Regions from separate parts of the Homo sapiens genome. Here regions 1 and 3 are each linked to region 2. The links come from fine-mapping of genetic effects on gene expression. A gene starts in region 2. Each other region holds a variant in brackets. All regions are shown on one strand. Distances are between the middles of the regions.

Region 1 (9,982 bases), 45 kb after region 2:
TCATCTTGGCTCACTGCCCTCCCGGGTTCAAGTGATTCGCCTGCCTCAGCCTCCCGAGTAGCTGGGATTACAGGCATCTGCCACCAGGCCTGGCTAATTTTGTATTTTTAGTAGAGATGGGGTTTCTCCACGTTGGTCAGGCTGGTCTCGGACTCCTGACCTCAGGTGATCCACCCGCCTCGGCCTCCCAAAGCGCTGGGATTACCGGCGTGAGCCACCACGCCCAGCGGGGTTTCTTACAATTGGAGAAGAAAGTTACAAAGGAACTAGCACAAACCCTGAGGTTCTGCACTGGAACTAGAGACACTGGGGCAAACTCATGGTTTTCAACACACACAGATTTGGAGCACAAACACGCACACGTGCACATGAGAACATTTCTGACTTCTGCCCACCAAGGGCACCTGGGGACAGAGATCCAGGAGCCACATGCACACCTTGTACCAGGGGCAAGCGGTCGATGCGAACCCCAGCCCTCCTGGAGAAAAAGCTCTGATTTCAAGCATTTGCTGATTTCTTGGTATAAATACTTCACCAACACCCACCCCACACTTTTTTTTTTTTTCCAGTTAATAGAGATGGGGTCTCCTTATGTTGCCCAGGCCGGTCTCAAACTCCTGGCCTCGGCCTCCTAAAGTGCTGGGATTAAACAGGTAAGCCACACGCCTGTAATCCAAGCACTTTGGGAGGCCAAAGCAGGCAGATCACAAGGTCAAGAGATCAAGACCATCCTGGCCAACACGGTGAAACCCCATCTCTACTAAAAATACAAAAATTAGCCGGGCATGGTGGCGCGTGCCTGAAGTCTACACTCCAGCCTGGGCAACAGATCAAGACTCCATCTCAAAAAAAAAACAAAAAAAGGATGAGCCACCACGCCCAGCCCTGAGGTAAGCTTTAAAGATGGAAAGAGTTTAGATAGGCAAAAGAGAGAATAATGAAACAAGCAAATGAAAATGAAAAGGTAAGTTTTTCATGAACAAGTTTCTTGCGCTGTCTGTGACAGTGAAAAATGGAAAACATGCATTTGCCACCAGCAGGGGAGGGTTCAATCAATCATGTATTGATCATATGCACCCTTTAAAAAAGTATAATGATGGCTGGGCACGATGGCTCACGCCTGTAATCCCAGCACTTTGGGAGGCCAAGGCAGGTGGATCATGAGGTCAGGAGTTTGAGACCAGCCTGACCAGCATGGTGAAACCCCATCTCTACTAAAAATACAATAACAAAAAAAAATTAGCTGGGCATGGTGGCGTGCACCTGTAGTCCCAGCTACTCAGGAGGCTGAGGCAGGAGAATTGCTTAAACCTGGCAGGCAGAGGTTGCAGTGAGCCGAGATCGCACCACTGCACTCCAGCCTGGGCGACAGAGTGACACTCTGTCTCAAAAAAAAAAACAAAAAACGTATAATTATACAGAAATCTTGGCTGCATGTGGTGGCTCACACCTGTAATCCCAGCACTTTGGGAGGCTGAGGCGGATGGATCACTTGAGGTCAGGAGTTCGAGATCTGTAATCCCAGCTACCTGGGAGGCTGAGGCAGGAGAATCACTTGAACCAGGCAGAGGTTGCAGTGAGCCAAGATTGCGCCACTGCACCCCAGCCTGGGCAATAGAGCGAGACTCAGTCTCAAAAAAATAGAAGTGCAGTTAAACGAAAAATCAAAGTTAGAATGCATTTACAGTGTATCGTCATTTTAAAGATTTAGGCCACATTTAGGCCTTGGTTTTTCTTTCTTTCACCAGATACCGAATGTCTATGCCAGCTCTGGAGAGACCAAGACCTGCCACTGGGGAGTGTCTACCCTCAAGAGGACAACAGCAAACTCACCAGAAAGAACTTCAGGCTTCACAGGCCAACTGGTTTCTAGGGGCGTGCCCTGCTGCTGTACCAAAAGCAACTTCCACAGCACACACATGAATGGACGTGGCTGTGTGTCAGTAAAACTTTATTTACAAACATAGGCAGTGGGCCACACTTTACCAGCCACTGATCTAATGCATCAACAAAAACAACAAACCAAACCAAAATGAATCCCATTTCACTTAGGAATTCTTTCATTGGAAGCAATTCTGAGGACAATAACCTGTACATGTGTGAATTCTTTCAAACCTACCTATTTTGGGATGTGACGTTGGCAACGCAGCTTCTGGAAACGGTGCGATCTGGCAGCTGTCCTGATAGCCGGGGTAGTGAGGCTCAGGGTGGCTGGCCCTGCATGGGGGCTGCACGCTGGCCTCTTGGACTGTTGGGGAGAAAAAGGACAGGGAGGCTCGGGATGGTTGTCCGCACAGCAGACTCTAAATATCACGCTGTATGGCTGCGCCATTCAGTACACATAGTAGCTTATGGCCACACGTGGCTACTGAGCCCCTGAAATGTGGTGATCCTGAATCGTTGACATAATAGGATTGGGGCTATATCAGGTGAAATAAAATAGATTATAAAAATCAGGCCGGGCGCGGTGGCTCACGCCTGTAATCCCAGCACTTTGGGAGGCCAAGATGGGCGCATCACGAGGTCAGGAGATAGAGACCATCCTGGCTAACATGGTGAAACGCTGTCTCTACTAAAAATACCAAAAAAAAATTAGCCGGGCATGGTGGCAGGCGCTGTAGTCCCAGCTACTTGGGAGGCTGAGGCAGGAGAACGGTGTGAACCCGGGAGGCGGAGCTTGCAATGAGCCGAGATCATGCCACTGCCCTCCAGCCTGGGGGATGGAGCGAGACTCCACCTCAAAAAAAAAAAAAAATCAGTTCTAACTCTATTTTCCTCAGTGTGGCTTCTAGAATATTCTCCAGCACACAACCAGCTAGGCTGCATTTCTGTTGCACAACTGCAGTCAAAAGCAGGAGCCGGCAGACAGAGAGTATTTTCAGCTTTGCCAGTTCTGGCATCTGTCACAAGTAACCCACTGCCACACGCCAACCCCATCCACACTGCACCGCCCACCTGACGTGGCTCACACGCTGTCCCCACCAACAAACGCCTGGTTCAAGGCCCCTCTCGAGGCACCCAGCAGCCTATGCAGCCCAATGTGGCGTCGGGGATGTGATGTCACAGACAGGGATATGCTGAGGACGCGTCAGGCAGGCACTGGAGCAGCTCACCTGTGGCCCCTGCGAAGACGTCGCCCTGGGCCGGACTCTCTGATATGACAGCAGTGGCCTCTACCGTGGACGCTCGGTCAAAGGTCAGTGCCCCCGAGGTCGTGATCTGTCCCGAGGGGGTCACGGTGACTGGAAAGGCAGAAGCACATTTCACGCGGCCAGGCAGTGGCGCCCACGGCACACAGGTCCCGTGCCACCCACGGGCGCCAATCCTTGTGGGGGCCTGGGCTGAAGGGCGGGCAGTGGTAACTGTACCCTCCCATGTGAAGGACACGGGGGAAATCCCAGACCTTGGAGAAGACCTCACAGGAGAAAACCAGGATGGCCAGGATGGCAACTTGCCACTACCAATTGTTCGCTGTTTAAACTGTGAACCATGGAAATGTGCTGCCCAGCCAGAAAACAAACATAAAATAAAACTTTCAGTGATTTTTAAGTACTTCGTGGTTCGAATTAAGAAAAAATCTTTAATCCAAGCTGAAGGTAAAAAGCAGCCGTGTCCCACAGCAAGGCTGCCCTGTGTCCCACAGCAAGGCTGCCTCTCCAGCTCAAAAAAAAATCCTGGCGACAGATCTTGAGACTCTGCTGCTGTGGGACTCTTCCTGCACCCACCACCCAGGGCCTCAGGAAGGAGCTGACAGGGTGTTTTAGAAAGACCTTACTCTATAAATGCAAAAACCCAGACTTAGTTAACAAAAGCCTATTACAAAGACATTTTCTCCTATTGCTACCTCTCCCCATTTAAATCCTGTCTGTACAAAAAAATAAAAACATTAGCTGGGCATGGTGGCACGTGCCTGTGGTCCCAGCTACTTGGGAGGCTGAGGTGAGAGCAGTGCCTGAGCCTGGGAGGCCGAGGCTGCAGCGAGCCGGGATCCTGACGCCGCCCTCCAGCCCGGCCACAGAGAAAGACCCACAGAGCTCTCCGCAGCCCTCGTCCAGCGCACTGAGAATCCCTCACCAAGGACGCCCTTGTCAGGAAACGTCCCCTGAGCGTGTGCTGGGCACTCAGCCATGCTCACTCATACTAGGAAACAGCCCAGGACAAGGCCAACAGTGTCCGGGTCCCAGGGAAGCAAGACCGAGCTGGGCACTGGGACACCCCTTCCCACCCGGGGGACGCACTGCAAAGGAGTGTGATGGCGTTGGAATCCCTCTGGCCACGCAATGTGCTTTAGAAGTGAGAATCCCGCAGTGGCCGTGGGAGTGGTGACGAGAGAAGGCAATGCACTCAGGTCCCCTCAGTAAACTAGAGCTGTGTTTTCTCAAACTCACAGGTGGTAGCCGCGGTGGCTGGAAGCAATGTGATGTTCTTGGGGGAGTCCTTCTTCACGGGAGTTGTGGGCAGTTCATTCTCCTTCTTGCGCCTTTTGTAAGGCACAAAAAGCCTGACTGGGCCACTCTGGGGGAGAAAGGAGAGAGGCCACCACCTTCATGTGTGCAAAAGCTATGCTGCGCTTGCAACTCCTCCTTAAGTGGGGGCACCGCGGGGTGTGTGAGTCACATGGTGAGACCACATTAAGATGGTAAGCGCCCCTAAAGATCCCACCTCTTTTTCTTTTTTGAGACGGAGTTTCACTCTAGCTGCCCACGCTGGAGTGCAGTGGCGCCATCTTGGCTTACTGCAACCTCCGCCTCCCAGGTTCAAGTGATTCTGCGTTAGTCTCCTGAGTAGCTGGGATTACAGGCATGTGTCACCACACCCGGCTAATTTTCTTTCTTTCTTTTTTTTTTTTTTTTTGAGACAGAGTCTCGCTCTGTTGCCCAGGCTGGAGTGCAGTGGCACAATCTGGGCTCACTGCAAGCTCTGCCTCCCGGGTTCATGCCATTCTCCTGCCTCAACCTCCCGAGTAGCTGGGACTACAGGCGCCCGCCACCAAGCCTGGCTAGTGTTTTGTATTTTTAGTAGAGACGGGGTTTCACCATGGTAGCCAGGATGGTCTCGTTCTCCTGACCTCGTGATCTGCCCACCTCGGCCTCCCAAAGTGCTAGGATTACAGGCGTGAGCCACCACGCCCGGCCGACTTTTTTTTTTAAATAATTTATATCTCTTCATTGACATTCTCCAGTGAGGAGACAGTGTCTTCAGACCTTCCATGCAATCTCTAGCTGTGGTTTCCTTCAGTCCTCTGAACATACTGAGGATAGCCATTTTAAAGCTTTTTCCTGTTAACCCCAACATCCGGACCTCTCCAGGCAATTTCTGTTGCCTGCTTTCTTCCTGTGTATGGTCCAAGGCTCCTTGCATGTCTTATCATCTTTTGTTAAGAATCAGACACCGCAGGTGATACATTGTAGCAACAGTGGAAAGCAGTTCTCCTTTCTCTGGGATCCTTGCTGCTGTCAGCTTGTTTATTACTCAGGTACGGAGCTGGACTATCTTACTGAGCCTGTTCTCCTGGGGCGGCCTCGGCTGCTGCTCCTCTGAGGGCTCGGCCCTGGGTGGGGTGCAATCACCTTTGGTGGTGGGAGTTTTGGCTGTCGCTCTTCCTGATCTCTGTTAAGCTGTTGGTGTAGTCAAGTGTCAGAATCAACTAACTGCCAGCTGCCTGCTCCATTACTTTCAACAATGCCCTGGGGCACACACTGCTCCACTGTCTGAGCCAATTAAATTAGGGCTTCTTTACTGAGAGGTTCGATCTTGAAGGTCGGTTTCCCAGATGGGTTCTTCGCTGTGGCTTTCCT[C/T]GCCTCTCTGGTAAACCTGCTGACCTACAGTTTAGTTTCTTGCTCTAATGGAACTGCTGGCCTCCTCTTAACTGCTTACCATCAAAATGTCCATTCTTTTCCAGGGCACTTTTAGGCTTGAACATCCCCATACTGTTTCAAATCAAGTCAGTTCCTTTGGGAGGGGCTTTGGAGCTCTCTGTTCTTACGGCCTCTCTCTCTTTTGGGCTGAATGTCTGAGCCCCTACTATAGACCTAGAGGCAGGAACAGTGCCTGAGTCTATCAGAGGGAATTCTGTTGCATTAGCCGGGTTCTGTGTGGGGGGCAGCAGCCTCTCACTGCATGGACACCCCACCCTATGGGCAATGTGGGTTGATGGAAATTGGGGCTCCGTATGCTTGGCCTCCCATGCCTGGGTAAAGCCTCTGCCCTCTGAGTGGGGATGACTGAAGAGATTTTCAGTCACACTTCCCAGGAATTTACTGCAACTTAGAGCTGAAGGGGTTGAGAAATGCTGGTGGCCTGCCCCTCCCAGTGAGATACCATATCCCTTGACCGGGAACTGCAAGGAGTGGGAACCGTTTTCTTGGTCACAACCACCCACAATGGAGCCTCCACCATAGGGAGCTGGGGGCAGAAAGGGAGGGAAGGAGCTGGTCGTAGCTCAAACGTCACAATCCTCACTGCCCTTTCCAAGACTTACTACATTTTCTTGGATGTTTATTTGCTGTACTCCCCTAGGACAATTTCTGGAGACCTTAAGGGGTTATTTTTTCACAATTTTCACTAGTTATTTCTCTGGAGAGTTGGTCCACTGAGCTCATCACACCACCACTCCCCAAGCGGAAGCCAAAAGTTCTAAAATTTGATGAAGTCCAATCCAAGAAATCCTAGTTCTAACTCCAGGTCAGGAAGATTTTCCAATGTGTTTTCTCCTAAAAATGTTATAGTTTCACCTTTCACTTTAGATCGATGACCCATTTTGAATTCATTTTTGTACCAAGTGTGAAGTTTAGGTCATCCTTTGTCTCTGCTGATGAACGTCCTGTCACTCCAAGGCCATTTGCTGGAGTCTACTATGACACTCTAGTCTGACCCAGATCGTGGGGTCTCTCCCTCTGCCAGTGCCACACTATCTTGATTACTGTCACGAGCCCGTAAGTCTTAAGACCCCGCAATGTGATTCCACCCATTTTAAACTTTTATTTCAAAACTGTTTTGGCTTTTTTGTTTCAAAACTGTTTTGGCTTTTTTATTTCCTTTACCTTTCTATGCAAATTTTAGAATCAGCTTGTCTGCATCTAAAAAGAATCCTGCTGGGATTTTGATAGTCATTGTGTTAAACCTACGAATCAACTTGGGAAAAAGTCGCATCTTTACTGAGTCTTCTAATCCACGGGCGCAGGACGTCTTTTGACGTATTTCAATCTTCCCTGGTCTCTCTCTTCAGCATTTTCTTTAGTATCTTCCACGTACAAACCCTGTACATGATTTCCTAGACTGACATCTAAGTACTTCAGTGTTGGAGCCCCTGCAAATGATCTACCTGCAGGCTCAACTGCCAATGGGACCGACGTCTCCTCCCGGCTCCTTTACTCCTGCAGCGTCTCTAAGAGTCTCACCGACTGGCTTTTCCCAATCAACTTCAAAATTATTTTACGTTCACAAAATTGTTTTTTCCACTAGAATCACATGAAATCTATATATCAACTACACAATTCTAGGATGTTTAGTGTTTCACCCCAAGAACACGGTAGGTCTCTCCATGCTCTTTTTTTTTTTTTTTGAGGTGCAGTGGCTCACGCCTGTAATCTCAACACTTTGGGAGGCTGAGGCGGGCGGATCACATGTGGTCAGGAGTTTGAGACCAGCCTGACCAACATGGCAAAACCCCATCTCTACTAAAAATACAAAAATTAGCTGGGCATTGTGGCACATGCCTGTAATCCCAGCTACGCGGGAAGCTGAGGCAGGAGAAGTGCTTGAATCCAGGAGGCGGAGGTTGCAGTGAGCCGAGACCGCGCCACTGCACCCCAGTGTGGGCGACAGAATGAGACTTCGTCTCAGAAAAAAAAAAAGAAAGAAAAATTATTTTGGGTCTTTGTGAAGCAGTTAAGAATTTAGAATAAGGAAATACGTCAAAAAGGCGTTAAAAGCTCTACACATGAATAAGTTTACAGTAGCATTTTTCTGACATGTTACAAAATGAGGAATATAAAATGGCATGCATACAAGGAAAAGCGTGTATGTTTAGTTTTAGAGTTAAGGCGGTGACATTATAACCGCTTTTCATTATTTAAGGTTTCCACAAATGTTCTTTGAGCAACATCTTGGGGGCCAACCACGTGTTCCCCATCGAGACATCAGGATTCACTGTGACGTATCAGGGAGGAGGGAACAGAGCAACCCAGGAGAAGTGAGGACAGTGTCTCTCTCCAAGGCAGAGGGCAGGAGGGAAACAGCCGAGAGGCCAAGGGCTGTGGGACCCACTCAGCCGCCCCCAGCCCCACCAAGTCATCCTGTTCCAGACACGCTGGCCACTTACTAAGGTCATGTCGTCGCAGCAGGCAGCACAGGTGCAAGAGGCAGCGTGAGGGTTTAAGATCCCATCCTGAGATGTGAAAAGAACCACCATGCATTAGCAAGTCAGCCCCTAAATGTCAATCATTCAATAATAGAAGATTTCAACCACTTTTACCACTTACCTACCATTCATAAATATAAAAATTCTTTTTTTTTTTTTTTTTTTTGAGACAGAGTCTTGTTGGGTTGCCCAGGCTGGAGTGCAGTGGCACGTTCTCGGCTCAGTGCAACCTCTGCCTCCCCGGCGCAAGCAATTCTCATGCCTCGGCCTCCCAAGAAGCTGGGATTATAGGTTTGCACCACCACACCCAGCTAATTTTTGTATTTTTAGTAGAGACAGGTTTTGCCATGTTGACCAGGCTGGTCTCGAACTCCTGGCCTCAAGCAATCTGCCCGCCTCGGCCTCCCGAAGTGCTGGGATTACAAGCGTAAGCCACCGTGCCCAACCTCATAAAGATAAAAATTCTGCAAAATCAGGGCCGGGCATGGTGGCTCATGCCTGTAATCCCAGGACTTTGAGAGGCCGACGCAGGCAGACCACCTGAGCTCAGGAGCTGGAGACCAGCCTGGCCAACATGGTGAAACCTCGTGTCTGCTAAAAATACAAAAATTAGCTGGGCATGGTGGCGCATGCCCATAGTCCCAGCTACCTGGGAGGCTCAGGCAGGAGGATCGCTTGAACCCGGGAGGCAGAGGTTACAGTGAGCTGAGATCACACCACTGCACTCCAGCCTGGGCAACAGAGGGAGGCCTTTGCCTCAAAAAAAAAAAAAATTGTGAGAAATCAGGTAATGCCCAGGCCAGGTGTGGTGGCTCACACATGTAATCCCAGCACTTTGGGAGGCCGAGGCGGGTGGCTCACTTAAGGTCAGAAGTTCAAGACCAACCTGACCAACATGGTTGGTCTCCATTAAAATACAAAAATTAGGCCGGGTATTGTGGCTCACGCCTGTAATCCCAGCACTTTGAGAGGCGAGGCAGGTGGCTCACTTGAGGTCGGGAGTTCGAGACTAGCCTGGCCAGCGTGGTGAAACCCTGTCCCTATTAAAAAATACAAAAAAAATAGGCCGGGTATTGTGGCTCACACCTGTAATCCCAGCACTTTGGGAGGCCGAGGCAGGCAGATCACCTGAGGTCAGGACTTCAAGACCAGCCTGGCCAACATGGTGAAACCCCATCTCTACTGAAAATTAAAAAAAAAAAAAAAAAAGCCAGGTGTGGTGGCGGGCACCTGTAATCCCAGCTACTCAGGAGGCTGAGGTGGGACAATCCTCTGAGCCTGGGAGGTGGAGGTTGCTGTGAGCCAAGATCAAGCCACTGCACTCCAGCCTGGGCAACAGGGTGAGACTCTGTCTCAAAAAAAAAAAAAAAAAACCACAAAAACAGTAATTTCCAGAGCCTTCTCCTTTTCACAATGCCATTATTGGTGGCAGGACCTACCTCTTTCCTTTCAAGATTTGCAAAAGTCTCTACAGGAATTGCTTCCTTAACAACACCCAAGGAGCTAAACTGGAATAGGAATTAGAAGTCCTCTTTTCTTAGTAGACTGACGAGAAGTTAGGTGACTTTGAAAGGGTCACACGCATTCAAACAGAAGCGATTATCTTAACTTCTACTGTTT
Region 2 (10,332 bases):
CGATCTCGGCTCATTGCAACCTCCACCTCCCAGGTTCAGGCGATTCTCCTGCCTCAGCCTCCTGAGTAGCTGGGACTACAGGTGCCCGCCACCATGCCTGGCTAATTTTTTTGTATTTTTAGTAAAGACGGGGTTTCACCATGTTAGCCAGGATGGTCTCCATCTCCTGACCTCATGATCCGCCCACCTCGGCCTCCCAAAGTGCTGGGATTACAGATGTGAGGCACCGTGCCCAGCCATATTTTTTTTAAGACAGAGTCTCGCACTGTTGCCCAGGCTGGAGTGCAGTGGCGTGTTCTTGGCTCACTGTAACCTCTGCCTCCCGGGATCAAGCGATTGTCCCACCTCCGCCTCCCAAGTAGCTGGGATTATGGGCGCCCGCCAGCATACCCAGCTAATTTTTGTATTTGTAGTAGAGACGGGGTTTCACCATGTTGGCCAGACTGTTCTCGAACTCCTGACCTCAAGGGATCCGCCTGCCTCGGCCTCCCAAAGTGCTGGGATTACAGGCGTGAGCCACTGAACCCGGCCATTTGGGTATCTTCTTTGAAGAAATGTCTATTCAAGTCCTTTACTCATTTTCATTATTTATTTTATTTTGAGACAGGGTCTCACTTTGTTGCCCAGCTTGGAATATGTTGGCTCAATCACAGCTCACTGCGGCCTCAACCTCCTGGACTCAAAGGATCCTCCCACCTCAGATTCCCAAAAAGCTGTGACTATAGGCTCACGCCACCACACCCAGCTAATGTTTGTATTTTTAGTAGAGATGGGGTGTCTTTCTTTTTTTTTTTTTTTTGAGACAGAGTCTTGGTCTGTTGCCCAGGCTGGAGTGCAGTGGCACGATCTTGGCTCACTGCAAGCCCCGCCTCCCAGGGTCACGCCATTCTCCTGCCTCAGCCTCCTGAGTAGCTGGGACTACAGGTGCCCGCCACCACGCCCGGCTAATTTTTTGTAATTTTAGTAGAGACGGGGTTTCACCATGTTAGCCAGGATGGTCTCGATCTCCTGACCTTGAGATCCGCCCGCCTCAGCCTCCCAAAGTGCTGGGATTACAGGCTTGAGCCACCAAGCCTGGCCTGTTGTGGAGGATCTTCTATACATAAGACCATGTCATCTGCAAGTAGAAATAGTTTTCTTTTCCAATTTTGGATACCTTTAATTTCTTTTTCTTGAGTAATGCTCTTGCTAGAATGTCCAGAACAATGTTGAACAGAAGCAGCAGCAGTGGGCATCCTTGTCTCTTTCAAAGGCTTTTTGTTTCTCACCATTGAGTATGATGTTAGCTGTGTTTGTATTTTGTTTGTTTGTTTGAGACAGTCCCCCTCTGTCATTCAGGGTGGAGTGCAGTGGTGCGATCTCGTCTCACTGCAGCCTCCACCTCCTGGATTCACGTAATTCTCGTGTCTCAGCCTCCTGAGTAGCTGGGACTGTAGGCGTGCGCCACCATGCCCAGCTAATTTTAATTTTTGTATTTTTAGTGGAGATGGGATTTCAACATGTTGGGCATCTGGTCTTGAACTCCTGATCTCAAGTGATCCACCCGCCTCGGCCTTCCGAAGTGCTGGGATTACAGGCATGAGTCACGGCGCCCGGCCTGATGAAGTTTGTTTCTATTCCTAGTTTATTGAGTCTTATTATCATGAAAGGGTTTTGAATTTTATGAAATGGTTTTTTCTGCATCAGTTGGGATGATCGCGTGGGTTTTTCTTCATTCTGTTAATGTGGTGTATGACATTGAATTTCGTCTGTTCGTTCACCCTTGCATTCCTGGGATAAATCCCACTGGGTTATGGTACATAATCCTTTTAAAAATGCTGTTTTTCGGCCAGGCACTGGCTCACGCCTGTAACCCCAGCACTTTGGGAGGCCAAAGTGGGCGGATCATGAGGTCAGGAGTTTGAGACCAGTCTGGCCAACAGAGTGAAACCCTGTCTCTACTAAAAATACCAAAATTAGCTGGGCATGGTGGCACGTGCCTGTAGTCCCAGCTGTTCAGGAGGCTGAGGCAGGAGAATAGCGTGAACCCGGGAGGCAGAGGTTGTGGTGAGCCGAGATCACACCACTGCACTCCAGCCTGGGTGACAGAGTGAGACTCCATCTCAAAAAAAAAAAAAAAATGCTGCTTTTCTGGCAGGCAGCACTTTAAAAGGGACTGTGTTTGCTCATATTTTTTCGAGAACTTTTGCATCTATATTCATAAAGGATACTCATTTGGAATTTTCTTTTTGTGATATCATTACTGTTGAGTTTTGAGAATTATTAATCTTTTTTGTATACAAGCCATTTGCTGGATATATGATTGCTAATTTTTAAAAAAAATTTGTTTCTTTTTTAATTTTAATTTATTATTTATTTATTTATTTATTTATTTATTTATTTATTTTGAGACGGAGTCTCGCTCTGTCGCCCACGCTGGAGTGCAGTGGTGCGATCTTGGCTCACTGCAAGCTCTGCCTCCCGGGTTCACGCCATTCCCTTGCCTCAGCCTCCCGAGTAGCTGGGACTACAGGTGCCCGCCACCACGCCTGGCTAATTTTTTGTATTTTTAGTAGAGACAGGGTTTCACTGTGTTAGCCAGGATGGTCTCGATTTCCTGACTTCGTGATCTGCCTGCCTCGGCCTCCCAAAGTGCTGGGATTACAGGCATGAGCCACCTCGCCCAGCCTATTTATTTATTTTTTGACACAGAGTCTTGCTCTGTTTCCCAGGCCAGAGTGCAATGACGTGATCTCCGCTCACCGCAACCTCTGCCTCCTGGGTTCAAGTGATTCTCCTTCCTCAGCCTGCCAAGCAGCTGGGATTACAGGTGCACACCACCACGCCCGGCTTTTTTTTTTTGAGACGGAGTCTTGCTCTGTCACCCAGGCTGGAGCGCAGTGGCACAATCTTGGCTCACTGCAATCTCCGCCTCCCGGGTTCATGCCATTCTCCTGCCTCAGCCTCCTCAGTAGCTGGGATTACAGGTGCCCGCCACCACGCCCGGCTGATTTTTTTGTATTTTTTAGTAGAGACAGGGTTTCACCGTGTTAGCCAGGATGGTCTCGATCTCCTGACCCTGTGATCTGCCTGCCTCGGCCTCCCAAAGTGCTGGGATTACAGGCGTGAGTCACCACGCCTGGCCAATTATTTGTATTTTTAGTAGAGATGGGGTTTCACTATGTTGGCCAGGCTGGTCTTGAACTCCTGACCTGGTGATCCACCTGCCTCGGCCTCCCAACGTGCTGGGATTACAGGTGTGAGCCACTGCGCCTGGCGTAGACAACCCAATTTTTAACAAAAGCAAAGATTTTTAACAGGCACATTCCAGAAGAGGGCATGCTGACAGTTAACAGGCACATGGGAAAAGTGGTCAAACATGAGTAGCCATCAGGAAAATCAACGACGTCCTACTACACTAAAATGGAAGAAACATTGCCAGACGTGGCCATTTGCAAATGTCGTTTCCTGGTCTGTGTCTTTTGATTCTCCTGACAGCATATTTGAGTTAATTTTTTAATGTGTAAGGTATGAGTGGAGGTCCTCATTAAAAATTGTTTAGGCTGGCTGTATGGCTCATGCCTGTAATCACAGCACTTTGAGAGGCTGAAGTGGGAGGATCATTTGAGCCCAGGAGTTTGAGACCGGCTGGGCTAACATGGCGAGACCCCGTCTCTACAAAAAATAAGAAAATTAGCTGGGTGTGGCACCACGCATCTGTAGTCTCAGTTGTACAGGAGGCTGAGGCCAGAGGATCACTTGAGCCCAGGAGATTGAGGCTGCAGTGAGCCATGATTGCAGTAAGATGTGATCACATCCAGTTACATTTGATTTTCAGATAAACAACAGAAGTTTAGTGGAGGCTGGGGGCAGTGGCTCACAGCTGTAATCCCAGCACTTTAGGAAGCTGAGGCAGGTGGATCACCTGAGGTCAGGAGTTCGAGACCAGCCTGGCCAATATGATGAAACCGTGTCTCTACTAAAAATACAAAAAAATTAGCCGGGCGTGGTGGCGGGCGCCTATAATCCCAGCTACTCAGAAGGCTGAGGCAGGAGAATCGCTTGAACCCGGGAGACGGAGGTTGCAGTGAGCCAAGATTGTGCTGCTGCACTCCAGCCTGGGTGATAAGAGTGAAACTCCATCTCAAAAAAAAAAAAAAAAAAAAAACAAATTGGGGTTGTCTGTCTTTTCTCATTGTTTCCATTGTTTCTGGATCTGTGTGTCAGAGATGTGTGCTGCACACATCCTTTCTCCGCCTAGCTTGGTTTTCACTCTTGGTGGTCGCAGACATCTTGGGGGCTACTTGAAGGAACTCTAAGCCGACCAGAGGCTGGGCTGGACTCGCCGTTTGGCGCCCAGCCGGAGACCCCAGGGCCACCCTCCCCGGTTCCATCCTGGGAGAGAAGAAACTTCCACTGTCCCAGTCTCTCCTGTGGTGACTTCTTTTGCTCAAGGGTTCACAAGGGCAGCAGACTGATCTGCACAAGAGGGACTGAGCCTGGCTGCGGCCGCACCTGATGCCTGTGCACACCTGTCCCTGGTGGTCTCTCCTGTGGTGACTTCTTTTGCTCAAGGGTTCACAAGGGCAGCAGACTGATCTGCACAAGAGGGACTGAGCCTGGCTGCGGCCGCACCTGATGCCTGTGCACACCTGTCCCTGGTGCAGGCCCTTCCCCCGCAGCCCCGTGACCTTGTCCTGTGAGGCTCACGGTGCCTGCTCCTTCTCAGAGTCCTCATTTCTCCCTTTAACGCACGCCCTGTCAGCGCCTCCGTCTAGCCCGTGTCCTCCAGACCTTCGAGGTCAGGGGCCTCAATTCCTGGCACAGCCCCTCCACTCCAGGCCTCCCAGAAACAGACTAGAGCATCAGGATGTGCGCCGCCTGGGGTCCCACAGAGTGGTGCCCCCTTTTAGTGTCTTCTAGGCCCCTTAGTGACAGACTACAGAAAATACCTCTCAGGTCACAGGTCACCCCTCTTTGGTGAAGAGTCCATAGAATTCTCTGCTGCGCTTTGCAAGCACTTTCTCTTCTGCACGTTTGGAACCTACCCCGGCCTGTCGTGTCTTTCTCCTGGCCTCCTCGCGAGCCGAACCTACTGTCCGGTCCCGGGACCCCCTGCCCAGGGTCAGAGGGGCGCCTACCTAGCTCACGGTCTTGGGCCGGAGGGAATGGAGGAGGGAGCGGGGTCGACCGCTCAGCTGTCCGCCCAGTTTCGGAGGCGGCCACGCGAGGATCAACTGTGCAACGGGTGGGGCCGCGGCTGACCGTGGTGGTCGCGGGGGCTGAGGGCCAGAGGCTGCGGGGGGGGGGCGGCGGGATGAGCTAGGCGTCGGCGGTTGAGTCGGGCGCGGAGTCGGGGGCAGGGGGAGCGGGCGTGGAGGGTGCGCACGAGGTCGAGGCGAGTCCGCGGGGGAGGCGGGCAGAGCCTGAGCTCAGGTCTTTCTGCGTCTGGCGGAACGGGCCTGGGAGGGAGGTTTTGCCAGATACCAGGTGGACTAGGGTGAGCGCCCGAGGGCCGGGACGCACGCACGGGCCGGGTAGGATGGCGCTGGCGTCGATGCCCGCGCGCTTCAGGGCCTGGTCTGGCCGCCCCTCCATCCTTGTCGGTTTCTCGGGTCGCGGACCCCGCGCGGCGCCGGGCGATGCTGGCCTGCCCGTGGCCACCACCTCGCTTCATTCCCGTCTCTTTGGGCCGCCGCATTCGTCCACGTGCCCGTCTCTCCCTGCGCAAAATTCCAAGATGAGCAAATACTGGGCTCACGGTGGAGCGCCGCGGGGGCCCCCCTGAGCCGGGGCGGGTCGGGGGCGGGACCAGGGTCCGGCCGGGGCGTGCCCGAGGGGAGGGACTCCCCGGCTTGCGACCCGGCGTTGTCCGCGGTGCTCAGCGCCCGCCCGGGCGCGCCATGGGGAACCGCAGCACCGCGGACGCGGACGGGCTGCTGGCTGGGCGCGGGCCGGCCGCGGGGGCATCTGCGGGGGCATCTGCGGGGCTGGCTGGGCAGGGCGCGGCGGCGCTGGTGGGGGGCGTGCTGCTCATCGGCGCGGTGCTCGCGGGGAACTCGCTCGTGTGCGTGAGCGTGGCCACCGAGCGCGCCCTGCAGACGCCCACCAACTCCTTCATCGTGAGCCTGGCGGCCGCCGACCTCCTCCTCGCTCTCCTGGTGCTGCCGCTCTTCGTCTACTCCGAGGTGAGCCGCGTCCGGCCGCACGAGCATCCTCACCTGCTCCTCGGTTCCCCGTCCCTGTCCCTACGGAGGACCCGGCGCGACCCGGCCCCTTTCTGGTGCGGAGCTTCCAGCTGGGGCGGCGGCAGGGGCGCTGCGCCTTGTCCCTCGGCGATACACCCACCGCCGCCACCTCGCGACCTTCCACCCGCTGCGCTGTCTGTCCCCCGACCCTCGTTCCTCTTCTCCTTCCCCGTCTGTCTTGGCGTCTGTTATCCAGGAGATGCCCGTCCTTCTATCCAGGGACCCCGGAAACAGGCGACTTTGTCAAGCCCAGTCCCCTCCGTAGCTGGATTTCACCTCCAGGGCAGCCAGCTGGACAGACAGGCAGATGCAGGCTCAGCCCCCTGGCTGCCGTGGGACACACACACACACACACTGCCACAGCCACTGCCCACCACACACACCTAGTGCAGATGCTGGCACACCCCCAGAAGGAGGCTCACAGCTCGCAGGGGAGACCTGGGCTGGACAAAACCCAGGGGAGGGGAGGGTGTGTGGGGACCAGGCCCCTGCTGAGAACCCTGGGGGGAAGCCTGAGGGGGAATTGGGGGATGGAGCCCACACTCCACACCAGGTCTGGCCCTCGAGTGGGTCGGCCTTGGTGCCAGCCCCTCTGCGGCCAGAGAAAAGCAGCTTAGGGCTGAGCTGGAGACGCGGTGTCCCCGACTGTGGGGGAGGGGGACTCGAGGTTTCCCCTTGATGGACACAGTGAATCCAGGCGGCTGGGGCAGAGACCAGCAGCACGGGACACGCGTGACCTGTGCTCCTTTCGAGCCGCAGACGTCACAGTGACGACGTTTAAGCTCCTAATCTCCCCAAATCGGCGGGAAGGATTAGAGGGGCTGCCTGCTCCTTTGCCCTTGGAGAGAGTCACTCCACGTGGAGTCCTACGCTGGGCACTGGGCACGGTCTTCATATTTTTAATTATAATTTATCTTCAAGACAATTATGATGTGGATACTATCATCACCCTTGTCTTACAGATGAAGAAACAGAAATGAATTAACGTGCCCGAGTCTCCCACAGAGAACTTAGCCAACAGAGCAGCCAGCTTCGCTTCTAGGCCCAGCGGGGACCCTGCCTACCCCAGGCTGGGGAGGGGCTCCCTTTGAGCCCGATGATATCAGGCCCGCCCCCAGGGAATTCCCCAGGCCGTTCTCATGTTTGTAACAAAAGGGAGACCAAGGCCAGAAGCCGTGATTCACGCCTGTAATCCCAGGACTTTGGGAGGCAAAGGCAGGAGGATAGTTTGAGACCAGCCTGGGAAACATACCAGGCCTGGTCTCTACAAAAAATTTTAAAATATCAGCCGGGGGTGGTGGCTGCGGCTGTTGTCCCAGCTATTCGGGGGAGCTGAGGCGGCAGAATCGCTTAAACCTGGGAGGCGGAGGTTGCAGTGAGTTGAGATCTCACCACTGCACTCCAGCCTGGGCAACAAGAGCGAAACTCCGTCTCAAAAAACAAAAAGAAAAACAAATCAGCCGGGGGTGGTGGCGCGCGGCTGTAATCCCAGCTACTCTGGAGACTGAGGTGGGAGGATCGCTTGAGCTCAGGAATTCCAGGCTACAGTGAGCCATGATGGAGCCACAGCACTCCAGCCGCGGTGACACAGCGAGACCCTAACTCAAAACAAAGGGAGATCTGCGTGGGGAAGGGGTGTTTCCCTGCCCGGTCCTCTGGCCTCTGGCTCACAGCCGGGCCCCCTTCTCCGTATTCAGCCCTGGAACTACCCATAAGAGTGGGGGCGGGTCACAAGGGCCCGCGGTGGCTGGGAAACCTCAGGGCCTGTGGTGTCGCCGCGCAGGTCCAGGGTGGCGCGTGGCTGCTGAGCCCCCGCCTGTGCGACGCCCTCATGGCCATGGACGTCATGCTGTGCACCGCCTCCATCTTCAACCTGTGCGCCATCAGCGTGGACAGGTGCGCCGCCCTCCCCGCCCGCGCCCCGGCGCCCCCGCGCCCCGCCCGCCGCCCTCACCGCGGCCTGTGCGCTGTCCGGCGCCCCCTCGGCGCTCCCCGCAGGTTCGTGGCCGTGGCCGTGCCGCTGCGCTACAACCGGCAGGGTGGGAGCCGCCGGCAGCTGCTGCTCATCGGCGCCACGTGGCTGCTGTCCGCGGCGGTGGCGGCGCCCGTACTGTGCGGCCTCAACGACGTGCGCGGCCGCGACCCCGCCGTGTGCCGCCTGGAGGACCGCGACTACGTGGTCTACTCGTCCGTGTGCTCCTTCTTCCTACCCTGCCCGCTCATGCTGCTGCTCTACTGGGCCACGTTCCGCGGCCTGCAGCGCTGGGAGGTGGCACGTCGCGCCAAGCTGCACGGCCGCGCGCCCCGCCGACCCAGCGGCCCTGGCCCGCCTTCCCCCACGCCACCCGCGCCCCGCCTCCCCCAGGACCCCTGCGGCCCCGACTGTGCGCCCCCCGCGCCCGGCCTTCCCCGGGGTCCCTGCGGCCCCGACTGTGCGCCCGCCGCGCCCAGCCTCCCCCAGGACCCCTGCGGCCCCGACTGTGCGCCCCCCGCGCCCGGCCTCCCCCCGGACCCCTGCGGCTCCAACTGTGCTCCCCCCGACGCCGTCAGAGCCGCCGCGCTCCCACCCCAGACTCCACCGCAGACCCGCAGGAGGCGGCGTGCCAAGATCACCGGCCGGGAGCGCAAGGCCATGAGGGTCCTGCCGGTGGTGGTCGGTGGGTTCCTGTCCTGAGGGGCGGGGAGGAGAGGAGGGGGGGGGTACGAGGCCGGCTGGGCGGGGGGCGCTAACGCGGCTCTCGGCGCCCCCAGGGGCCTTCCTGCTGTGCTGGACGCCCTTCTTCGTGGTGCACATCACGCAGGCGCTGTGTCCTGCCTGCTCCGTGCCCCCGCGGCTGGTCAGCGCCGTCACCTGGCTGGGCTACGTCAACAGCGCCCTCAACCCCGTCATCTACACTGTCTTCAACGCCGAGTTCCGCAACGTCTTCCGCAAGGCCCTGCGTGCCTGCTGCTGAGCCGGGCACCCCCGGACGCCCCCCGGCCTGATGGCCAGGCCTCAGGGACCAAGGAGATGGGGAGGGCGCTTTTGTACGTTAATTAAACAAATTCCTTCCCAAACTCAGCTGTGAAGGCTCCTGGGGGCTGATGGGGAGTGGGGAAGAGGGGTTTCTGCCTCAGTGGCCCCAGGCCCCCCAGCCAGTTAACCTCTTTCTCCCCGCCAAGGAAGCCCACAGAGCAGACCCCACCAAGCCGGCCGCCTGCTCAGGGTGAGGGGGGAAGGGGCCCCCGAGAGCCACTCAGTTCCGCAGCGCTGGGGCCCAGCTTCCCCTCTCTGCAGGGGAGAGGAAGCAGCACCCAGCAGGGCAAGGTGTCTCCTGGGGAAGCCCAGTTCCGATGGGAAGAAACAAATGGGGAGAGGCGGGGTGGGGGGCTGTCAGCCGCCAGGCCCTGCCCGGGCCAACTCCCACCTCTGAGAACCAGGCACAGGGGGCTCCAGGCTCATGCTGCCCCAGCAGACCCCGGCAGGGGAGCCCAACCTGTCATTTTAGAAGCTGCCTTGAGGCCAGAGCCTAGCTTCCTGCCAGTCCCTGGCCAGAGGATGCCCCAAGCCCCACAGCAAGGGGCCTGTGGTGATGGGTGGGGCCCCACCAAGTGGCTTCCCTGGAGGGAGCTCCGTGCTCAGTCACCCCTGGTGCCCAGCCAACCTCTGCCCAGCGTCCACCAATGTGGCTGGGCCAAGGGGTGGGAGCAGGGAGGCGGCAGCGGGGCCAGGGGCTGGGCAGAGCGACCCAAGCTGCCTGTCTGCACCCTGGCTCCATCAACCAGTGCAGCCCCTGACCCTGGGGGAAGAGGGGCGGCTCCCAGGGCCCTCCATGCAGGAACAGCCTACCCTGGACTGGATCCAGCTCTCTCCCAGGCCCAGGTTGTGGGAGAAATGGGGGACCCTCCGCCTCCCAATCGTGCTGGCTGGAACTTTCCTGTGCTGGGGATTCGGCGTTTGCAGCCAGGGTGGCCAGTCAGGGTGCCAGGCTCCCATCTGAACACTGACAGACTGTGGGCTGTGCAGTCTACAGCATTGGGCACAACCTCAGCTTGCTAAAATACTCAGTGCAGGCTGGGTGTGGTGGTCACGCCTGTAATCCCAGCTACTCGGGAGGCTGAGGCA
Region 3 (10,332 bases), 54 kb before region 2:
GTTTTCCTCTTTAATCCCCCAAATCTGGAGGCTAAGCAGGAGAGTCACAGTGGTTCCTCCACCCCAGAGCTCTGCTAGCCCAGCCAAAGGTGGCCAGCAGCTGGGAAGGGCTGTGGTCTTTTCTGCAGAAATGGCTTCCTGGCCTGTGGCCTGGGACATGGCAGAGGTGGGTATGGGGAAGGGAAGATTTGTTGGAGTTGGGGCTGCTGGTGCAACCAGGAGGTCCTAAGCTAGGGGCTCCCATTAACCCAGCATCCTAACTACAGGTCCTGGTGGTCCCAAACAGGTCTTGTGCCTGGTGCTTGTGCCAGAGGGTACCTGCGGAGGCTTCCTGGGTTATTTTGTGTTCTCTGGCAAAATAGCCCCTGGTTACTTTTGTGTGATATCGAGGAAGGATGTTGTTCAGCCTCACGTAACCTGAACGTTCCTGCTGCTGTGGTGGAGGAGTGTAAGAGGCCCGTGGAGTCTTCCCTCACCAGCTGTGGTAAAGTTCAAAGGCCTCAGGACTTAGCCCCACAGGTGCATGGACTCGCAAAGTTCAGCCTCATTCCTGAGCTGGTATTTCTGGCCAGCTCCTATGTGCCAAACCCCACACGGCCTCACTGATCTCTTCTGGCAGCCCTGGGGCAAGCCCTGCCATTGCCTGTCGCCCCACCTAACCCTTGGAGGTGGTCCCCAATCTCAGTGCATCAAGGGAGAGGCCAGGAGCTGTTTGTTCACATACTATGGCTCACTGCAGCCTCGAACTCCTGAGCTGAAGTGATCTTTGCACCTCAGACTCCCGAGCAGCTGGGACTACAGGCGGTTTCCACCACACCTACCTGGTTTTTAACGGTTTTGCCATGTTGCCCAGGCTGGTCTCATAACTTGCAGGCTCAAGTGATCTGCCTGCCTCAGCCTCCCAAAGTGCTGGGATTACAAGCATGAGCCACCACGCCCGGCTGATTCACATTTTTTTTTTTGAGACTGAGTCTCACTCTGTCGCCCAGTGGCATGTAGTGGCGCGATCTCAGCTCACTGCAACCTCCGCCTGCCAGGTTCAAGCAATTCTCCTCCGGAGTAGCTGGGACTACAGGTGCACGCCGCCATGCCCGGCTCATTTTTTCTATTTTAGTAGAGATGGGGTTTCACTGTGTTGCCTAGGCTGGTCTTGAACTACGGAGCTCAGGCCGTCTGCCCACCTTGGTCTCCCAAAGTGCTAGGATGACAGGCGTGAGCCACTGCACCTGGCTACCAATTCACATTTTTTACTTTCTATGTGAAATTCATCATCAAATGAGGATTTGCACTCGGGACAGTTGGACCCTGGGACTCCCCCAGCCCTGCTCCTCCCCCCAGCCCTGCTCCTCCCCCCAGCCCTGCTCTGTTATCTCTTAGGTGGTCTCTTTGAAGTGTTCCTTGGTAGATTCATGTGAGAGAGTCTGCCTCCCTCTTTCAGATATGTTTCTCCAGGGCAGGGACTGCATTCGCCTTGTGCTGCACAAAGTAGGAGCAGGGTAGGTGTTGGAGCAGGCGTCCTGGAAGATGTGGGGTCTGTTGTCAGGGTGGTCACAGCTATTGCCAGGGAGTTAAGGTCCTCTTATCTGAGAGCTGTGGTCACTGCTAGGTCTCAGTGCATGCTGTGGGAGAGGGGTCACCCTCCTGGATGGGCCGTGGCCCTCGTGTGTCTCTCAGAGCCAGTGTCTCTAGGATTCAGGTGCGGGACGAGCAGGGCGTCTCTGCGGAGTTGCTGGGTCCACCAAGCACCAGGGGTGCAGACTGCCTTGAGCGGGGATCATGACCAGGTGTTTTCACCTTAGGGTGGCAGGTAGAAGAAAGGTTAATTACTAATTTGGCAAAACTACTTCTACAATCGCTGTTTCCAGGCAGTAGTAAGATTTGGCAGTTGACAGTTGGATGGAGTTGACATTCTTCACTGTTTTATAAGGCATCATCTTAGAATCTAGGGTTTTGCACTGTCTTGTCAGATGGGAAGTGAGGCCGTCCTGGTTTCTGAGCCCCGTTAGGGTTTGTTGTCCAGGGGTTTCCAGACAGCAGTGGCGCTGACAGCCACTTTCCCCCGTTGCTGTGGTACATGTGCAGCCCACAGTGGTGGTGGGAGCTGAGCTCCAATGCAAGGAGGCCCTGAACTCGAGGGCAGCTCTGGCCCCCTACTTCCTGGCCTCTTGTGCGATGCGCTTTCCTCTGATCATGGATGGAGGTTGGACTTGGTGGGAAACAGAGTGCTGCAGGGCCGGCTTCACTGCCTCGCTGGATTCCTGACTCACTCTCCTAGGACAGGCCTTTCCTCCGAGAGTCGCCTGGGAAACAAGGTCAATAGCACTGATGAGAAATGAACCACGTGCACGTATCTCCTTTCTTATCTGGGACCAAAGTTTGAGGCCCTGGTGTGGAAGGAGGAGCGTGTCCAACTAGATTTCCCAAGGCTTTGTACGGGATCCTGTGTGGTTTCACAGTGACCTTGCAGAGTGGGAAGGGCAGGGGTCCCGGCTGACGGGTCAGGGCCTTGAGCAAGTGGTCTTGGGAGCCGAGGGGTGGGCCTGGCCTCTGTGCCTTCTGCCTCCTCAGCTCTGGGTACCACTGGGGACTCAGCAGCACCCTGGTGGATGGGGTTGGGGTGCGGTCAGAGGAGCCTCCAGGCATCCCAACAGTGGCCAGCCTTGGCAGGGAGAGCACCCTACGTGTCACTGAGGCCCCTCTTGTGCCCAGCTGATAAAGCCCGGCTCTGCCTCAGCTCAGGATGAGGCCGTTTTGTTCGTATATGGTGTTGCGATTCCTCAGGAGCATTGCAGTTTTTTGAGATGGAGTTTTGCTCTTATTGCGCAGGCTGGAGTGCAGTGGCGCGATCTCGGCTCACTGCAACCTCCGCCTCTCAGGTGCAAGCGATTCTCCTGCCTCAGCTTCCCGAGTAGCTGGGATTACAGGCGCCCGCCACCACGCCTGGCTAATTTTTGTATTTTTAGTAGAGACGGGGTTTCATCATGCTGGCCAGGCTGGTCTCAAACTCCCGACCTCAGGTGATCCGCCTGCCTCGGCCTCTCAAAGTGCTGGGGTTACAGGCGTGAGCAGCTATGCCTGGCCTAATTTTATATTTTTAGTAGAGATGGGGTTTCTCCATGTTGGTCAGGCTGGTCTCAAACTCCCGACCTCAGGTGATCCGCCCGCCTCAGCCTCCCAAAGTGCTGGGATTACAGGCGTGACCAATTTTTTTTTTTTTTTTAGTTAAAAACAAATTTTTATTTTCTGGCCGGGTACAGTGGCCAGCTAGGATCTGGCTTTATGGGTAGCTCTGTAAATGTGAATCATGTGTAAGGCTTACTGGTGAGGGTTGTTCTGTGGGTGATATCTTAGGGCTCACCCTTCACGTGCTGTGGCGGTGGATGTGACACTGGGACACTGGGGTGTGGCCTGTGGGGATACTGCTGAGAGTTGTTCTGTGGGTGATATCTCAGGGCTCACTCTTCACGTGCTGTGGCGGTGGATGTGACACGGGGATGTGGCCTGTGGGGAGAGGTCATAACTCTTCAGAGGGTTCTTTGCAGCCTGGGACAGTTTGGAAGTTGCTTGGCTCTTCTTTCTTTCAGAGCTGAGCTCAATGTGCAGCAATGGATGACGACAGCCTGGATGAGCTTGTGGCCCGGAGCCCAGGGCCGGATGGACACCCACAGGTCGGCCCTGCGGACCCGGCAGGTGACTTTGGTGAGCTGCCTAGCGCCGGGTAGGGGCGTCCCCAGGAGGAGCAGGGTGCCTGGTGTTTCCCTTTGGAGGTCGTCTGTGTGTGTCACTTGTCAACTTTCAGTCTAAAAAAATTATGCTTTGATTTTAAATTGCGGAAGTAGTGTATTGTTTTGTTTTATTTTTAATGCAAACAACACAAATGTTGAACGAAAGGATGTTCCCTTTCCTTGCTTGTGCCCCCACCTTGCCGGCCCTGGGGAAGCCGTTAGCCGTTTGGCAGGTGCTCCTGACGCCTCTATGCCTGTGCAAAGCAACCTGCTCTCTGCTGCATGGTCTTGACGCCGCCCTGCGGCCTGTGTCTCACCCTGGTGTCTAGAAGAAAGCAGCGTGGGCAGCAGTGGGGACTCTGGGGACGACAGTGACAGCGAGCATGGAGATGGCACAGACGGAGAAGACGAGGGGGCGTCTGAGGAGGAAGACCTGGAAGACAGATCTGGTGAGACAGCTGGTGTTCACGCCGGCTCCTGTGTTTCCTCTTGTCGTGATGGGGACAGCCTTTTATAACACATCCTCCGTGAGAGTGCTGTCACCACAGCTGGCCATGTCCCTGCGGTCACCTACGGTGAGGCCTTATATTCAGCTGTGGTGACGGCTCACTTTATTTGTAGTACTTCATTTCTTTTTTTTTTTTTTTTTTGAGACAGGGTGTCGCTCTGTTGCCCAGGCTGGAGTACAGTGGTGCCATCTCAGCTCACTGCAACTTCTGCCTCCCGGGTTCAAGTGATTCTCCTGGCTCAGCCTCGTGAGTAGCTGGGATTACAGGCACGCACCATGACACTTGGCTAATTACTTTTTGTATCTTTAGTAGAGACGGGGTTTCACCATCTGGTCTGGAACTCTTCCTGACCTCAAGTGAGCCGCTGTGCCTGGCCTGTAGTCCTCCTTTTTTTTCTTTTTTGAGACGGAGTCTCGCTCTGTCGCCCAGGCTGAGTGCAGTGGCGCGATCTCGGCTCACTGCAAGCTCTGCCTCCTGGGTTCACACCATTCTCCTGCCTCAGCCTCCCGAGTAGCTGGGACTACAGGCGCCCGCCACCAAGCCTGGCTAATTTTTTGTATTTTTAGTAGAGATGGGGTTTCACCGCGTTAGCCAGGATGGTCTCGATCTCCTGACCTCGTGATCCGCCCACCTCAGCCTCCCAAAGTGCTGGGATTACAGGCGTGAGCCACCGCGCCCGGCCTTTTTTCAAGACGAGCCTGGCCAGCATAGTGAAACCCCCTCTCTACTACAAATACAAAAAATTAGCCGGGTGTGGTGGTAGACGCCTGTAATCCCAGCTACTCGGAAGGCTGAGGCAGGAGAATGGTGTGAACCTAGGAGGTGGAGGTTGCAGTGAGCCGAGATTGTGCCATTGTACTCCAGCCTGAGCGACAGAGCGAGACTCCATCTCAAAGGAAGAAAAAGAAATTCTGGCTGTCTGGGCGCGGTGGCTCACGCCTGTAATCCCAGCACTTTGGGAGGCCGAGGCGGGCGGATCA[G/C]GAGGTCAGGAGATCGAGACCATTGTGGCTAACATGGTGAAACCCCGTCTCTACTAAAAATAGAAAAATTAGCCAGTCGTGTTGGCACGCGCCTGTAATCCCAGCTACTTGGGAGGCTGAGGCAGGAGAATTGCTGGAACCCGGGAGTCGGAGGTTGCAGTGAGCCAAGATCGCCACTGCACTCCAGCCTGGGCAACAGAGCGAGACTCTGTCTCAAAAAAAACAAACAAAAAAACCCCACCAAAATTAGCCGGGCGTGGTGGTGCGTGCCTGTAATCCCCACTACTCAGGAGGCTGAGGTTGGAGGATCGCTTGAGCCCAAGAGGTCGAGGCTACAGCGAGCTGAGATCACGCCACCACACTCCAGCCTGGGCCACAGAGCGAGACTCTGTCTCAAAAAGATAAAAAATTCTCAGCTCACTTACAATTGGCTGATGGTTGTGCCCTTGAACTTCTTTTGAGAGAACAATGTTCCAAAGGGCAGGTCTGCGCTGGGTGTGGTGGCCCAGGCCCATGGTCTCAGCTACGCAGGAGGCTGAGGTGGGAGGACCCTTGAGCCCAGGAAGTTGAGGCTGCATTCCAGCCTGGGTGTTGGAGCGAGACGTTATCTCAAACAAAACAAAGGGGAGACAAGTCCGTGGGGTGCGCTGGTGGTACCTCCTTCCTTGTCCCCTGTTGCCATCACCCTCGGTGGTGCACAGCCTGTGAGGCCACCAAGGAGGTGGCCCTGCCCCGGCCCTGCTGTGGTTGCTTCCTCAGAGGGAGGCCGAGCTCAGGCTCAGAACTTTGCCTTTCCACTACTTTCCTTCTGACATCACCCTTGGGCTGGAAAATCCATGGTCCTCAAGTGGCTACTGTGATCTGTGTGTAGCAGTCTTTCTGCATAGCCCTGTGGTTATCAGGGTTAGAATGTTCCAGAAAGGTAACACTCCTGTTTGAGACTGTTGGTAAGGGAATGGCACTCATGGCCTGAGCCAATGTGTGTTGGCCGTGTCCTTCCAGAGTTCGATGTTTAGCTCTGCACGTGCTCTGCGGGTCTGCTTGGGTCTGCAGGTCCTGAGGGGCTTCCCTGCTCCCTCCCAGCATCAGGTTAGGGCTCTGGTTCATCTGTAGTAGGTCTCCGCACCAGTTCTGGCGTTGCCAGGGCTGAAAGTGTGGGCCGTCAGGGCCGCCAGGTGACTCTGTCCTTGAGATCCTGAGGGCACATTGGATGCCAGAGACTCTGGGTTGGGGGCTGGAGTGAAGGTGGCGGGAGCCTCAGCAGGGCCCCCACCGTGTCTGCGCTCACCTTCTAGCAGCAAACAGTGCGCCAAGCAGCAGCTGGGGGACAGGGTCATAGACACTGAGAGCTGTGGGCGTCCAGGGGAGGGGCAGGCTCCATGGACCTGGGGTGGGGAGAGGCTTCTGGAGAATCCAAGCTGCCACCTGAGGGGCAGGAGGAGGTGGCTGGGCAGAGGCGGCAGGCCAGGACGGGGGAGCTGTGAAGAGACAGGTTTATGGAGACCTGGAGCCCCTGAGGGCTGAGCGCCCCGAAGGAAGGGGATGGGAAGGCACTGGAGAGGTGTTGGTATAGCCACTGTGAACACTTCTTTTTATTTCTCCAGGACCTTTTTTTTTTTTTTTTTTTTTTTTTGAGACCGAGTTTCACTCTTGTTGCCCAGGCTGGAGTGTAGTGGCGCAATCTCGGCTCACTGCAGCCTCTGCCTCCCGGGTTCAAGCGATTCTCCTGCCTCAGCCTCTCGAGTAGCTCGGATTACAGGCGCGCACCACCATGCCTGGGTAATTTTTGTATTGTTATTCGAGATGGGGTTTCACCATGTTGGCCAGGCTGGTCTTGAACTCCTGACCTCAGGTGATCCACCCGCCTTGGCCTCCCAAAGTGCTGGGATGACAGGCATGAGCCACCGCGCCTGGCCAGGACTGTTTTTTAAACATGAAGAAGTAGCCAGTGGGTCCCTAACTGGTGGGAAACATGTTGAGGAGGGAGTTATTCCACGAGCAACACCCACGTTGCTGGGGCTTGGGAGCTTTCGTTCTCATTGCTTTTCCCACCCTGGTGTTTCCTGCTGGAAATCACTTGTTACACTGCCCTTTCCAGCTTGAGGTAGTAGCCCTTTCCAGCTTGAGGTAGTAGCCCTTTCCAGCTTGAGGTAGTAGCCCTTTCCAGCTTGAGGTAGTAGCCCTTTCCAGCTTGAGGTAGTAGCCCTTTCCAGCTTGAGGTAGTAGCCCTTTCCAGCTTGAGGTAGTAGCCCTTTCCAGCTTGAGGTAGTAGCCCTTTCCAGCTTGAGGTAGTAGCCCTTTCCAGCTTGAGGTAGTAGCCCTTTCCAGCTTGAGGTAGTAGCCCTTTCCAGCTTGAGGTAGTAGCCCTTTCCAGCTTGAGGTAGTAGCTCTTTCCAGCTTGAGGTAGTAGCCCTTTCCAGCTTGAGGTAGTAGCCCTTTCCAGCTTGAGGTAGTAGCCCTTTCCAGCTTGAGGTAGTAGCCCTTTCCAGCTTGAGGTAGTAGCCCTTTCCAGCTTGAGGTAGTAGCCCTTTCCAGCTTGAGGTAGTAGCTCTTCAACTCTTTTTTTTTTTTTTTTTTGAGGTCGAGTCTCGCTCTGTTGCCCAGGCTGGAGTGCAGCAGCACGATCTCAGTTCACTGCAAGCTCTGCGTCCCAGGTTCACGCCATTCTCCTGCCTCAGCCTCCCAAGTAGCTGGGACTATAGGCACCTGCCACCGCGTCCAGCTAATTTTTTGTATATTTATTTATTTATTTATTTTTGAGACGGAGTCTTGCTCTGTTGCCCAGGCTGGAGTGCAATCGTGCAGTCTAGGCTCACTGCAACCTCTGCTTCCCAGGTTCAAGCGATTCTCCTGTCTCAGCCTCCCAAGTAGCTGGGATTACAGGCACACGCCACCACACCCGGCTATTTTTGTATTTTTTGTAGAGACGGGGTTTCACCATGTTGGCCAGGCTGGTCTCAAACCCCTGACCTCAGGTGATCCACCTGCCTCAGCCTCCCAAAGTACTAGGATTACAGGCTTGAGCCACCACGCCTGGCAATTTTTTGTACTTTTAGTAGAGACGGGGTTTCACTGTTAGCCAGGATGGTCTCTATCTCCTGACCTCGTGATCTGCCCACCTCAGCCTCCCAAAGATGCCGGGATTACAGGCGTGAGCCACCACGCCCGGCCAGTAGCTCTTCAACTCTTAACATGAAAGATGGGAACTTAAAACTCTTCTGCTGCCTCCCTCGCAGCTCTCACTTCTCCCAGCCTCTTTAACAGTGTAAATATTTCTGTTCTGGGTGTGTCTTTCCCTTTGCCAGATAACAGAGGGTCCTGGCAGTGATGCCCCAGTGCTGGCAGGGTCCTGCCCACATGCGTGGAACCGGGAGGGTTTGGAGGGTTTCGGGCCTAGGAGGAACCTGCCACCCACACCGAGTCTGCTCCTCTTCCCATGTGAACTTGTGTTCTGTTTACTTTAGCGTTGTTTCATTGGAGTTTGGTACAAAGAAGATAGCAGTGCACGTATGGGCTCTGCCGTGTTGAACTCGGAGCATCTCCCTGCTCCCTGCTGGTCAAGGTGTAGCCTCAGAACCACTCCGAATTGGCCAGAACGGTTGTGGTTAGTGGCCCAGTTAGGAGTCTGTGCTCTGCCTCCCACAGGGAGGAGGAACAGGCAACCTCAGAAGGAAGTCCCTTCCGCGGGCAGAGGGTTTGTGGTCCTCATGCTTTGAGAAGGGGGCGTTGGAAATGGGGGCTGCTGTCAGGGGGCTGCTGCACTGAGGGGCTCGCTTGGAGGCTCTGAAATGAACCTGATGGTCTCTGGGACCTGTGCTAGGCCCCAGGGCTGCCCTGCCTCTCGAGGTCTGCCTCAGCCCCAGGCTCAGCTTAGAGGAGCTGGTCTGGCACTCAGGACGCTCAGCTTCCCGCCCCTCGGTGCAGGGCACCCGAGGCTTCAGGTTAGGTGCAGGGCAGGGCTCCCAGGGTTGTGGATGTGCTGAGCGTGGACGTGGAGGTAAGTGGCAGGAGCCTGCGGGGAGGTGGGCTGTGCATTGCCGACCTGGTGTCCTGAGCGCAGCCTGGGCCCGCTTGCCTCCAGTGCCGCGGTTCACGCTGCCCATCCTGCTTGCACCAGCTGGCATGTTTCCTCTCCAGGTTCCGAGGATTCTGAAGACGACGGGGAGACATTGCTGGAGGTAGCGGGTACTCAGGGGAAACTGGAAGCCGCTGGCTCTTTCAATTCTGATGATGATGCAGAGAGCTGCCCAATCTGTCTCAACGCATTCAGAGACCAGGCCGTGGGGACGCCGGAGAACTGTGCCCATTACTTCTGCCTGGACTGCATTGTCGAATGGTCCAAGGTGAGTTCACCTCTGGTTGGGTGCTTCCTCCCTTCAGGATGGCCTCCCTGTTTATAGGTGACCCAGCCTGTGTTCAGCCTCTTGTGAGGTTCTAGTTGTCTGCTCTGCGGCTGACCCTGGGGCCACAGGATTGAGTCTGGCTTGGTCTTTGCTTTGTGAGCACCATGGCTCTTGGGGGTGTGGGTGAGCTCATGTGAGGCGTTTGTGGTGTATTGGTCAGGGGCAGGAGAGAGGATGGCCGTGGGTCTCCCAGGACCAGCTGCAGAAACCCTGGTTGACATAGGGGCCATCTTGGCCTGCAAGCCAGAGGCAGGTGTGCTGTGGTGCGTGGTCACTTTGCTGCCTTGACATGTGGTTCTCTCAGTTGATACAGAAAACACCGGTACGATTTGGCATTCATTCACAATAACTGGCATCAAAAGAGACTGTCCTTAAAACAGGTGAATAGAGTTTACCGTAAACGTGCAGTGTATTTTATATTTCAAAATGAACTTTTAGAAGCAGTCAGCTCCCCCCTCCCTTTCTGAATATTGTGAAAAATGTCAGAAAAGGAGAGCTTGCAGTCTGAGGATGACTCATGAGTCCCCGACCTCTGTACTCAGGGCTCAGCTCCGACACCACTACCTCTTGACTCCCTCCCCTCCCTGCGATTGCACCAGCAGCCCGTGCTGTCCCCGGCTCTCTTCAGGACCGTGACCTCACCCAGGGTTCCTAGTGACTGGGTCCTCCTGTTCTGTTTCACTGAGTAGCTGAAAACTGCCTGTATGCTTAGTTT

Evidence for each region. PIP is the estimated chance that this variant, and not a neighbour inherited with it, causes the effect.
Region 1: its variant is fine-mapped to the expression of DRD4 in thyroid (GTEx, PIP above 0.99). The same link has a PIP of 0.9 or more in breast, hippocampus and lung.
Region 3: its variant is fine-mapped to the expression of DRD4 in testis (GTEx, PIP above 0.99).

Annotation. Positions count from the first base shown.
Region 1 is chr11:676,575-686,556 of GRCh38, forward strand. It overlaps DEAF1 (DEAF1 transcription factor), which reads right to left. Exons shown (of 12, transcript NM_021008.4): 6 at 8,324-8,389; 7 at 4,389-4,515; 8 at 3,114-3,242; 9 at 2,120-2,248. Among named protein-coding and RNA genes, the nearest start is that of DEAF1, 14 kb to the right of the region's middle. RefSeq lists enhancers at 105-604, 2,532-3,032. The variant C/T (reference allele first, on the strand shown) is at 5,799.
Region 2 is chr11:631,423-641,754 of GRCh38, forward strand. DRD4 (dopamine receptor D4) reads left to right here and starts at 5,847. Exons shown (of 4, transcript NM_000797.4): 1 at 5,847-6,167; 2 at 8,011-8,123; 3 at 8,226-8,884; 4 at 8,979-9,284. The coding sequence starts at 5,883. The coding sequence ends at 9,181. RefSeq lists enhancers at 4,129-4,664, 4,665-5,198, 5,734-6,267, 6,268-6,802, 6,803-7,336 and 4 more.
Region 3 is chr11:577,908-588,239 of GRCh38, forward strand. PHRF1 (PHD and ring finger domains 1) reads left to right here. Exons shown (of 18, transcript NM_001286581.2): 2 at 3,585-3,699; 3 at 4,055-4,174; 4 at 9,352-9,557. The coding sequence starts at 3,606. Among named protein-coding and RNA genes, the nearest start is that of PHRF1, 6.6 kb to the left of the region's middle. RefSeq lists enhancers at 5,856-6,357, 6,358-6,857. The variant G/C (reference allele first, on the strand shown) is at 5,215.